Linked DNA regions of Homo sapiens: region 1 is linked to region 2. The links come from fine-mapping of genetic effects on gene expression. A gene starts in region 2. The other region holds a variant in brackets. All regions are shown on one strand. Distances are from middle to middle.

Region 1 (5,379 bases), 170 kb before region 2:
CTGACCCTCAGTGACGATTGTGTCCTATGTCCAGATGTCCTTCTGTGCTGCCTAAACGGATGTCTTATAGGCAGGCGCACACTCGGCTGGGGTGATGGGGGCCCAGGAGGCAGGTCAGGCAGGGATCTCCCAGCATAAGGAAAATGTCAAGACATATTTGGGGCTAAGAGTGTGCCCCTTGATGAACACCCCCAGTTGTTAATAAATCAACCCTCCACGCCTGTGCAGTGCCTCAGGTGGGGAAGGAATTTCCCATGATAAGCCAAAAAGGGTGGGATTTGGAAGGGCTGCCTTACTGTGTTGGAGACTGTTGAAGGAAGCCGCGGAGTAGCTATTGTTGGCCTCGCTCTCTCCCTGTCTCTCTCTCTCTCTCTCTCTCTCTCTCTCTCTCTCTCTCTCTGTGTGTGTGTGTGTGTGTGTATGTGTGTGACTTTATTGTATCACCAGGCAGGAGGCAGTCTGTGAAAAATCTGCTCCAACAATAGTAAAGGAACGTGAAGGAGCTGAAAGAGTAGAATTTGCAATGCTGCAAGCATACAAATCAAAATAAAATAAGGATAGTTCAACAAATATACCTTTTCTGATAATTGTTTATAGCACTGACCATTAATTTATAGGTCTGAAGATATATTATCCAGAGAAAATGAACATTAAGGCAGCTTGGAGAGACTTTAAAATCCCAGTGCATACTTTCTTTCTTTCTTTTTTTGCTTTTTGTTTTTGAGACAGAGTTTCACTCTGTCGCCCAGGCTGGAGCGCAGTGGCGCCATCTCAGCTCACTGAAACCTCTGCTTCCCAGTTTCAAGTGATTCTCCTTCTTCAGCCTCCTGAGTAGCTGGGATTACAGGCACGCACCTCTATGCCCAGCTAATTTTTGTATTTTTAGTAGAGACGGGGTTTCACTATATTGGCCAGGCTGGCCTTGAATTCCCGACCTCAGGTGATCTGCCTGCCTCGGCATCCCAAAATGGCGGGATGACAGGCATGATCCACCATGCCCAGCCTCAGTGCATACTTTCAAAAGTTGTAGGGATTGAAAGGGAGTTTAAAACACACGTTCTCCAATCTCTTTTTGATGCCTGAGTTGTCTCTGTGACAACACCCTCCCATAGATTCTCTGGCCTATGCCTGAGATCTTCGCGGTGCCCACCTGTCATACCTACAAGGCATTTCCTTCCATTTTGGGTAACTCCAAACCCTAGAAAATAAAGTCACCTTTCATTTGTATCCACTAGTCTTAGATTTTAAAATAATCATCACTAGTATACACTGAATACCGGGAGCTGGTTCAGGTGTGTTTTATTTAATCCCCTATATATTTACCCCCGTAGGTGCATGAGTCAGCTCTGGTTGCCATCCCAAGCTACTATAGACTGGGAGCTTCGACAACAAAGAGTGTATTTTCCCACAGTTCTGGAGGCTGGGAAGTCTGAGATCAATGTTCTGGCTGATTCTATTTCTGAAGGCTTGAAGGGCAATAATCCTATCAGATCAGGCCTCCTCTACCCCAGCCCTCACTTAATCTCATTTAACCTTAATTACTTCCCTAGATGCCCCTTCTCCAAATACAGCCAGACTGGGAGTTAGGGCTTTTTTTCGGGAAGTGCCTGTAAGGGATTGATTTGCCCTCTCATGCAATGAGTGCTGTGGTTAGGACTGAAACCCTATCTGCCTGATTTCCCTGTATGCCAACTGTCCTGTGGTCCTTATTCTTGGAAATAACCTTGGACTTGAGACGACCTGGGGCCAAGTCCTTGCAGTGGGTGCTTTTGTCCAGCCCAGTTCAGCAGGACAGGAGACCCGATGGGGATTTGGGGACACAGCCTTATCTAGAAACAAAGTATGCGTTCTTTTTTTTTTTTTTTTTTTTCTGGAGTGGGGTTGTAGCAGGAGGGGCTGTGGCCAAAGTAATCAGGGACTCAGAATATGAGTTTGCTCAGACTGCTATAATAAAGTACCACAGACTGGGTGGCTTAAACAACAGACATTTGTTTTGTCACAGTTCTGGAGGCTGGAAGTCTGAGATCAAGGTGCCAGCAGGGCTGGTTTCTCCTGAGGCCTCTCTCTTTGCTTTACAGATGGCCACCATCTCCCCGTGTCCTCACGAGGTCATCCTTCTGTGCATGTCTGTGTCTTAATCGCTCCTTTTAAGGACGTCTGCCATATTGGATTAGGTTCCATCTGAATAACCCTATTTTAACCTAATTATATATCTAAAGACTTGATCTTCAAATAGAATCACATTCTGAAGTACTGGGGGTTAGGACTTCAACATATGAATTTTTTGGTGAGGGGAGTGGAGGGGTCACAATTTAGCCTATAACACTTAGGGAGCTGCATTTTCACAGTCTTGGCCAACAGAGGACACCAATGCTTGTATCCCCGCTCCTAGGAAGGGGCAGGTGAGATCTGTCTCCCTTGCAGAATGCTCCTGGACGCACAGCCTGTTCCGCCTGGGTATCCCTGTTTGCTTGTGTATCCCATCTACTTCCATACGGCAGGGAAAGAAAAACAACTTTTAATACAATAAAAGGTTGTGCTCTCTTTGAACCGTGGGGTTGTTTTTCTGTTACCAGAAAACACTTTTTCTTTCTATCCATTAGATAGCATCTTCTCTGTGTGCTATTTACCTTTTCTTCTAGCCCTTGCCTTCTCTCTCCTCCCATCTGGCAATTACCAGTGAAGTTACATAAATTGGTCTCCTTACCCATCATTATACACAGGAGTCGTAC[A/C]CAGCCTGCCCTGGGTACATGCTGTCCTCTGAAAAGGAAGTGGACTTACAAAACTGCATCACTACAGGACTTTAGAAATATTTGAAGAGAGATAAACAAGCAGCCATGAACTTGCCACACCAAAACAGATGTCCTCATTTTGCATATCGCTGGCTGTTTCTTAGTTGCATGCTTATAAATAAATTTTGCTTCAATATCTGTGAGGATCCAGTCAGGGAAACAGAAGCTAAACTAGTTGTTTTAACAGAGAAAATTTAATACAGGGAATTGCCCTAACAGGGGCTGGAGAATTGAAACAGCAGAAAGCCATGAAGGGAAGAGGTGAGATGATCGAAACACAGAGCTTGGTGGAGGGTCTCTGTGCAGCTGGGGCTCAGATCTTTGAGAAGGGGGTCCTGCCCAGCAGCTGCTGGTGTCTCTGAGGTGGCACATGAGGCTGGCTCTGGAAGTCTGGAAAGAAGGTAGACGCTGTAGTAACTGCTGCCACCGCAATGGAGTGCCATGTTTTCTTCTGATGCTACGTTCTAGGAATTTTATAGTTTTGCATTTATATTTGGGTCTATAATCCACTTTGAGTTAATTTTTGTGAAAGATATAAGGTCTGTGCCTTTTTTCTGTAGCATAAAAAAAAAACATGGCACTCCATTGCGGTGGCACTCCATTAAACATGCATTTAATATACATAACCTACTGAACATCACAGCTCAGCCTAGCCTGCCTTAAACACGCTCAGAACACTTACATTAGCCTGCAGCTGGGCAAAACCATCTAACACAAAGCCTACTTTATAATAAAGTGTAACTTTCTTTTTAACTTTATTTTTTTCATGTAACTTACTGAATACTGTGGTAAAAGTGAAAAACAGAAGGGTTATATGGGCACTTGGAATACAGTTTCTACTGAATACCTGTCACTTGTGCACCATCATAAAGTCGAAAAATCCTAAGTCAAACCGTCATAAGTCAGAGGTCGTGTGTACAGAGCAAGAACTGGGTTGCTGGGAAGGGGGTCAGCTCATATCCACCTAGTTATTAAGAGCCTCCACTGCAGTGGATGTCCTAGAGTGAGCATTCATACGGGGCATGCATATCTCCACTACCTCTGCTTATTCTCAGAGATCCAGCCACAGATGCCCTTGTCATTAATTTTCCAATCTTGTTCTCTCCAAGTCCCTAACAAACTGCCAAACCACTAGCCACTCCCCATGAGTCAGTGTAACTGTACCTTTGGCTACCTCTTCTAAGAGGACAACAGATGTACTGATTGAAGTTCCTCCTTCTGTCTTTTGGGGCACTCCTGATTGGGCTACAATAAGCAGCAGTCCAGTTCCCATATTGCGCAGAGCTAGATGTAAGAAAGGTCAGAGCCTTCCTCCCTCCTCAATCAATGAGTCGGAAGGAATTCCTCATGAGGTTGTAGGAGTGGACTGAGGGAGAAGATGCAAGAACAGAAGCAGCTGTCAGGGAGTCCGAGATAGATGCTCATGCAGGTCACCTGTGCTTTCTGCACCTGCTTGAGCTTCATTCATTAGCCATTTCTACCTGGAAGTGTCCAGCTCTGGTCCTGTACATCCCCTGCTTTATGAGTCACTGTGTCAGACAGCACCCCATTTGTGATGAGACGCTCAGGCCACATAACCATATGATGTCCCATGGTCAGGTATTCAGTCCCTATCAGGTGTGTTGCAAGGCAGGAGCCACTTCTCAAAAGGAGAATAATTACCTGAAGAAGAGGGCAAGGCTTTGCTCCTAAACCTTAGATCCCTGCATGACAATTGCCCTGCTGCAGCTGTCAGAGGCTTCACGCTGCATTGCTAGTTTCCATAGAAACTTCAAGCATTGTGGATATTCTGGGTCATAAGGCCCAAGTGACAGTGCGGTTTTCTCTGAAGGCTGAACCTGCTGCAGACACCTTCTCGCCTCTGGTCCCTGTTCAATACTGGAAGCCTAATGGGTAAACGGGTCAAAATAGCACATTTAATGTGATATGTTTCCTCCAAAATTAAAAAAGGAGACCCACCAGGTAGCAGCAACTTGTTTTCAGTGATAAGAGGAGAAAGGTACAACAATTTTCACTTTGAATAGGATACCCCAATATGCTCTGTTTGGACTCAGGACTCATCTCCCATCCTCCAGCCTGCATGTGTCTTCTTCCTATGGTATCTAAGGAAGTCACTATTTCCTGTGCATCAGGTCTCATCTGCATAACACTGCCAATATAGTGGACCAGTATGATTTTTGTAGGATGTAAAGACTGTTAAGATCTCTACTCTGAGGCAAAAAAAAAAAAAAAAAAAAAACCCAAAAACTTGAAAGTGTACTGTTGATTCTGCCAGTTAAAACAAATGGCTTCTGATGCTCCTTGGAAATGGGTGGAAAGAGAACTAAGCACCTGGCACATTGGGTGCTACACACCAGATGCAATGAGTTGTGCTGATTTGCTCCAGGAAAGTGTTGGCATCTGGAGCAGCAGCTGCAAGAGAAGGCAGCATCTGCTTAGGTTTACAATAATCCATGTTCTCCAAGATCCATCTGCTCCTGACAGACTCAACAGATCTGTAAAATGAGCAAAGTGATAAGTATCACCACTTCTTCCTTCGAGTCTTTGATGGTGGCCTTAATTTCTGCAGATTCTCCTAGGGATATAG
Region 2 (5,379 bases):
GTTACCCAGCACCCCGAAAAGAATGAGGCCCCCCAAGATCACCCCGAGCAGAATGGCCTTGGAAATGTTCACCGGTGCCGGCGGTTGGGTGCAGTTGGAGCTGTCGGAAGCATTTCCCGAGAGAAACACCATGGTCCCAGCCGGGGCCGGGCGAGGTCCGGCTGTCCAGGGCCACCTCCCGGGCTGGCGCGGAGGCGGGAGCGCGGGAGCCGGGAATCAAAAGGTCTCGGCTGGAGGGAGCCCTGCCAGGTGGGTTTGGCTGGGGGTGAGAGCGCGCGCGCGGGTGGGAAACAACCCTGGCCAGCCCTGGGAACCCTCAGAAGGCCACATGAAGGGGCAGGGCATTAAAGACATGGCCAGGGGCGCGCGGGGCTGCCGGGGACCCTCTCCACCTGCCGGGCTGGCCTAGCCCGGGACCCGGACTCCCTCCCTACCCGAAGCTGGGTGCGAAGATCCAGGAGACTCCTTGCAACATGCAATTCCAGAATTACGAGAATCTGCTTTTCCGCGCTGTCTTATTCGTCCTGGCTGGGGGAAGATTCAGCATTCTGCACATGATTCGGAATTCAAAACTCCAGCGCCAGTCTCTCCCTCAAACCAAAAGATCAGCCGTCGACGCTCAAAGGCAGGGACCGATGGTTGGGTAGCGCAGCGCTACAGGTTGGGCGCTGCTCCTGGCCCGCAGTTACCTACATTTTGAGCTGCCCCACCGAAGGCTCCTGCTCTCTCCAGCTTCTAGGAGCACAGGTCAGGGGACGTAGGTGTGGAATATGTGCTGAGACCCAGGAGGCTGCGGGGCATCGTTTGACCGCGTCCACCTGAAAGAGCGCAAAGAGAAAGGCGGCTTTGAGCTAGGCGCCCCAGGGAAAGAGGCTGTGCTGAGCTTGACGGGTTGGGGGACACCAGTTGGGAGCCGGGTTGGTTCTGCGGTCCAGAAGCTGCTTCGCCCGGCAGCGGTGGAGGCGACTTCGGAGCTCATCTCGCGCCCCCACCACTGGGAACCTGCCTAGCGCACTCTACTGAGTCACCTCTGCCCGAGTTCAGGATCCGAAGCGAAAAACAAACAAAAAAACAAATCCCCAAAACCCCAGGCTCCAGCGCTCGAAGTCTGGATTTCGAGCGCAGGTACCACGAAATTAAAATCCTCGAAGCCCCGGAGGGGCGACTGCGGCTGGCGAGTGTGTCGCACGGATCCTAGCCGGGGAATTCTGGAGGATGTACTCGGTTTCCGTTAGAACAGGTTGCCTCGCAGTCACCTGGAGGGGGCGGCCTGGGAGAGGGAACAGCTGCGACCCAGGGACCTCAGGGCCAGGACCACGAGCACGCTCACTCTCACGCCGGTGGAATTCGCACTCGGGTGTGCAGAGCGCACCGGTCTGTCCACCAGCCAAGCTGGCTTGAGAGCCAGGTCCCGAGCGAAGCCGGGAGGGACCCGAAGACAGAAAGCGACCCAGGTCTGTCCACGACGCCTTTCCAAGCCTCACTGTTGGCCACCCGAGGGGCTCCAGCTGCCAGCCGTAGCGGGACTGGCGGGGGACGGGGTGGGGAGGACGTCCCTCTGCAGAGGGAGCTTTGCAAGTGACAGTCACTGCGGATTTTGCAGGCGTAAACATTAAGCCGGCATGCCAGCGGGCAGGGGCCGCCTTCGATTTTCTGGGCTGGGGGCCACCATCTGCGTAAGAAACCTGGGTTTCCACAACTGCGAACCTACCGCAGGGACTCGGCAGGACAGCGCGGCGTGAGGAAGTGCCCACCTTGCCTTCTGGGGTTGGGCCCTGAGGTGGGACCTCGGGCAAAGACTCTTGTTAAAATCGCAAGTTGGAGACCTCACAGGTGGTATTAAAAACGTGCCACTGCAGAAACCCTTTTCCTCCTACCTCGAGGGTGATAAACACAGGGTTAAAAAGACACTTGTTCAGTAGAAGGCAACTTCGCAGAAGATGTAAGGGAATCGGGGGTGGGGTAGAGGGGCCGGTATAAAACCTGGTGGAAAAAGCGGGAGGCGCTGGGAAAAGTGGGGGTTCCGTCTCACCAGACGGCGGGGGAGGTCTGCCCTCACCCACTCGGCCCTGCGGGACGCCGGCCCCGGCGCACTCACCTGAAGCGCCGCTGCTGAGCCACCAGCTCGCGCGCGGGGGATGTGGACCCGGCTTCGGTCCCGGGAGCTGCCTGCCTGCTCTTCTCTGGAGGCGGAGAGGGGACCGTGTCTCCGAGGCACCAAATCCTTGTCCTTTTGCACCCGCTGACTCACCCCTCCACCACTGATGTCTTTAAGCTCCTGAACCGCTGTCACTTTACCTGCATTTTTTAAAAAGAGTCAAAATAAGAAAAGAAAAAAAAATGCAGATAACCGGTAACTCCACAATCACCCTTTTAATATTCAGCTCCCCGACACCAGAAAAGAATAGCAAGGAACTTTGCAGCTCTCGCTGACGTAACTCAGGCAGTAGCCCAGCTAGTACCGTAATCTCCTGCTGCTACCGTATTACTCTACGGCAACAGGCACAAGTGCGTATACAGCTGTAATGTTTTCCTCTGGCCTAGAGGGGGTTGGGTTCTAGCGTTTCTTTAAAAAGGTTTGTGTGTGTGTGTGTGTGTGTGTGCGCGCGCGCGCGCGCGTGTGTGTGTGTAGAGTCATTTGTAGTAAATAACTTCTTTAAATGAGCTTTTAAAAATAACGAAAAATTGACACCCTTGCTAGATATTGCTGTGTGTATGGTGTGTTCATAGGAATGTGCTATAAAGTAACTTTGAACAGCTTGATTTGATTAACATTTGGCCTAGGTTTTGTTAAGATCAAGAAGTATATTAAGAATATTGTAATTCTAAATATGCAAGTAAATTATAAGGTGTTTTAAATAGCAAGTAAAATCAGATAAAATATGACAAATCTGATTGTAATGAAATTATATTTTCAGGAAGATAAAGTGGACATATCTAAACCTTATTTAATATGATTCACTTCTAATTTCTTTAGACAGATGAATTTTAAGAGCATTATGGCCACAGAGTTTGGTATTTTTTAAATGCCACACAATCTTTTCCAGTTTTCTTGAGAAAATGGTATCCTTTCAGGAGTGTTACTCTCTTTAATTCATTAATAGCTGGAGTATGAAAACCTAGCACCACCAGTCTTATTACTTTTTTTCTGGTAAATTACATAATCTGTTTACCTTGTGATTGAATAAAGTCACATGTGTTTCAGAATATCGGGAACATAGAAAAATGTTTCCCACTCCAATTCCCACCTCCTAAGTCATCTTTCATCTTTATTGATGCAGACAAAGTGGAATGTTCTTATTTACTAGGTCTCCTTAAACCTAGGAACAAGGAGATAACTTTAAGCAGTGGCACTTAAATTCTCTCCTGTGAACAAAATCATATTAATATGATTACCTTTTCTAAGTGAGATAATGTTTGGGAGGCTCTTTTATAGCAATAAATCTCAAAATGCCTCAGAGGAATGCCCATGAGAGGGTCAGTAAATCCTATGTCATGGAAGACCTAATATATGTATTTATTTCTCTATTGTATACAAAGTCCTCCACCTCTGCCTCATACCTGTAGGGATAGAACTCACACCTAACACATTTGATTTGAATTTAATATATTTTTAAAACTGAATTTCGTGCCATAGGAGGAGCATCCTGGTTGAACAGACAGCTCCACTTCTCATTACTAAGTCACCTGCTCTCTCTGGGATTCAGTCCCCTTAGGAGGAAGCTTGACCTCAATTCCCTGCACTTCTAGTACTTTATCATCAAATATGTGTATAATGTCTGTGCTTCCGAAATCCCATCCATCAGAGGGATATACACTGTTTTGTTTTGTATTCATTAACCTGATGCTGTGAATGCAAATTCTTCATTAAGATGTGTTCCATGGTAGATAAGGGAAGCAGTGCTATCAGCAAGCAAAGCAACTGAAAATTGCTCAGCTCTGCAAGGTCGAAAATTGCAAAAGTCTTTGTAACTCCCAGTCCCCACTCTACAACAATTAAGAATACACATAATCCACCCCTGCACCCACCTCCAATAATTAACTAGTTAATACTAAGATAAGGAAGAGCAGCTCTTCATGCTGCTAGCAGGTAGGTCTTTCAAATCTGCTTCTCAGCCTGTGACCATCAATCCTTGCAAAACGACCTCTCAGAACCAATTTTTCAGTCACCTACCATTGATTCACAAACAGAAAACTATCCATCTGTTGGTTACTCTTTAAAGAATAGTTGACGTGGACATCCCAGAAAGTGTCTGAGTTGTACACATGGGTAGGTGGAGTGGAGAGGAGTATGCTCTGGGGTCATAAAGATGCTATTCTGACCCTCCTATGCGACCATGGCAAAGCCTTGGTTTCCTAATTTTTAAAGGGAGACAATGAACCCCCACAAGGTTGTTATTAGTGTTGAAAGAAATTACGTTTCTCAAAAACTCAGCTCATAATATTCACTAACTCTATTATTAATCTTATTAACTCCCTTTCTGCTCATTTTGTATGCTACTTTATAGTGAAATATATTTCTAACCCAGGTAGTCCATGAACACTGGTAAATTCAGCTGGAGAATGTGCTAAGTGTCTTGAGCACTACACTTGAGCTAAGTGGTTTAATCAGAATGACCCAACATGGTTAAGTTGCAAGAGCTGGCCCTGATCACTGGCTGCTTCTTTTCTTCTCACTTTCCCCCTTGTTCTTTGTCTTGAGGGGCCATGCAAATGTGTGTGAACACCTCAGCCCCTACAGCCAGAAAGCTGCCTTCTTGGCCTCAGGCCTTGGGGTACACACATTTGTGATGTTGTCTGCCCAGAGAGAATGGACCTGAAAGTGATTGTGTGGCCATCTGGGGCAAGGGATTCTGAGTCCCAGGGCATGGTCTAGAAAGGAGGGCACAGGCTCCAGGTGGGCATATCACATTAGTCCTATGGCCAAAAGGAGTCAGAGCTGGACTCTCTAAAGCCTGAAACCCTAGCCGGGGTCCCTCTTGCCTGGCTCTGAGGGTGATACTCTGAAGACTTCCGGTGTGACAGAAATTGAAGAATCCCCTGAAGGGGTGGTTGTGGAAAGACTCATAAAATGATATTGCTTGATGTAGGATTTGTGGAATCAGCAGGATTGAGATTTGTAGACAAAAGTGAGGAAGGTGAACCATCAGCAGCCGCATTTTAGAGTGGTGTGTCAGGGATGCTGGGGGAATGAGTCTGATTGGAGAAGAGCTGAGCAATGGACATAAACCCATGCATTGATTGGCAGGACTTTCTTAGTGACTAGTGAGGAACTCGGCAAGTGTGGTAGGCTTAGAGGTTTAAAAAAATAAAGAATCTGTCTATCATTCCCTTAGAAAACAATACACAATGGAATTAGGAGCTGTGTTCTGGAATTTA

Which allele goes with the higher level. Positions count from the first base shown, and alleles are read on the strand shown. Sizes are in standard deviations (SD) of each study's normalised expression.
In carriers of allele C in region 1, the expression in stomach of the gene that starts at base 2,441 in region 2 tends to be lower than with A alone (small effect, 0.31 SD a copy in GTEx).

What was found.
Region 1: its variant is fine-mapped to the expression of ADRA1A in stomach (GTEx, PIP above 0.99). The same link has a PIP of 0.9 or more in ileum, lung and transverse colon.

Annotation. Positions count from the first base shown.
Region 1 is chr8:26,691,167-26,696,545 of GRCh38, forward strand. No RefSeq gene overlaps it. Among named protein-coding and RNA genes, the nearest start is that of ADRA1A, 170 kb to the right of the region's middle. The variant A/C (reference allele first, on the strand shown) is at 2,733.
Region 2 is chr8:26,864,838-26,870,216 of GRCh38, forward strand. ADRA1A (adrenoceptor alpha 1A) reads right to left here and starts at 2,441. Exons shown (of 3, transcript NM_000680.4): 1 at 2,099-2,441; 2 at 1-818. The coding sequence starts at 132. RefSeq lists an enhancer at 711-1,662.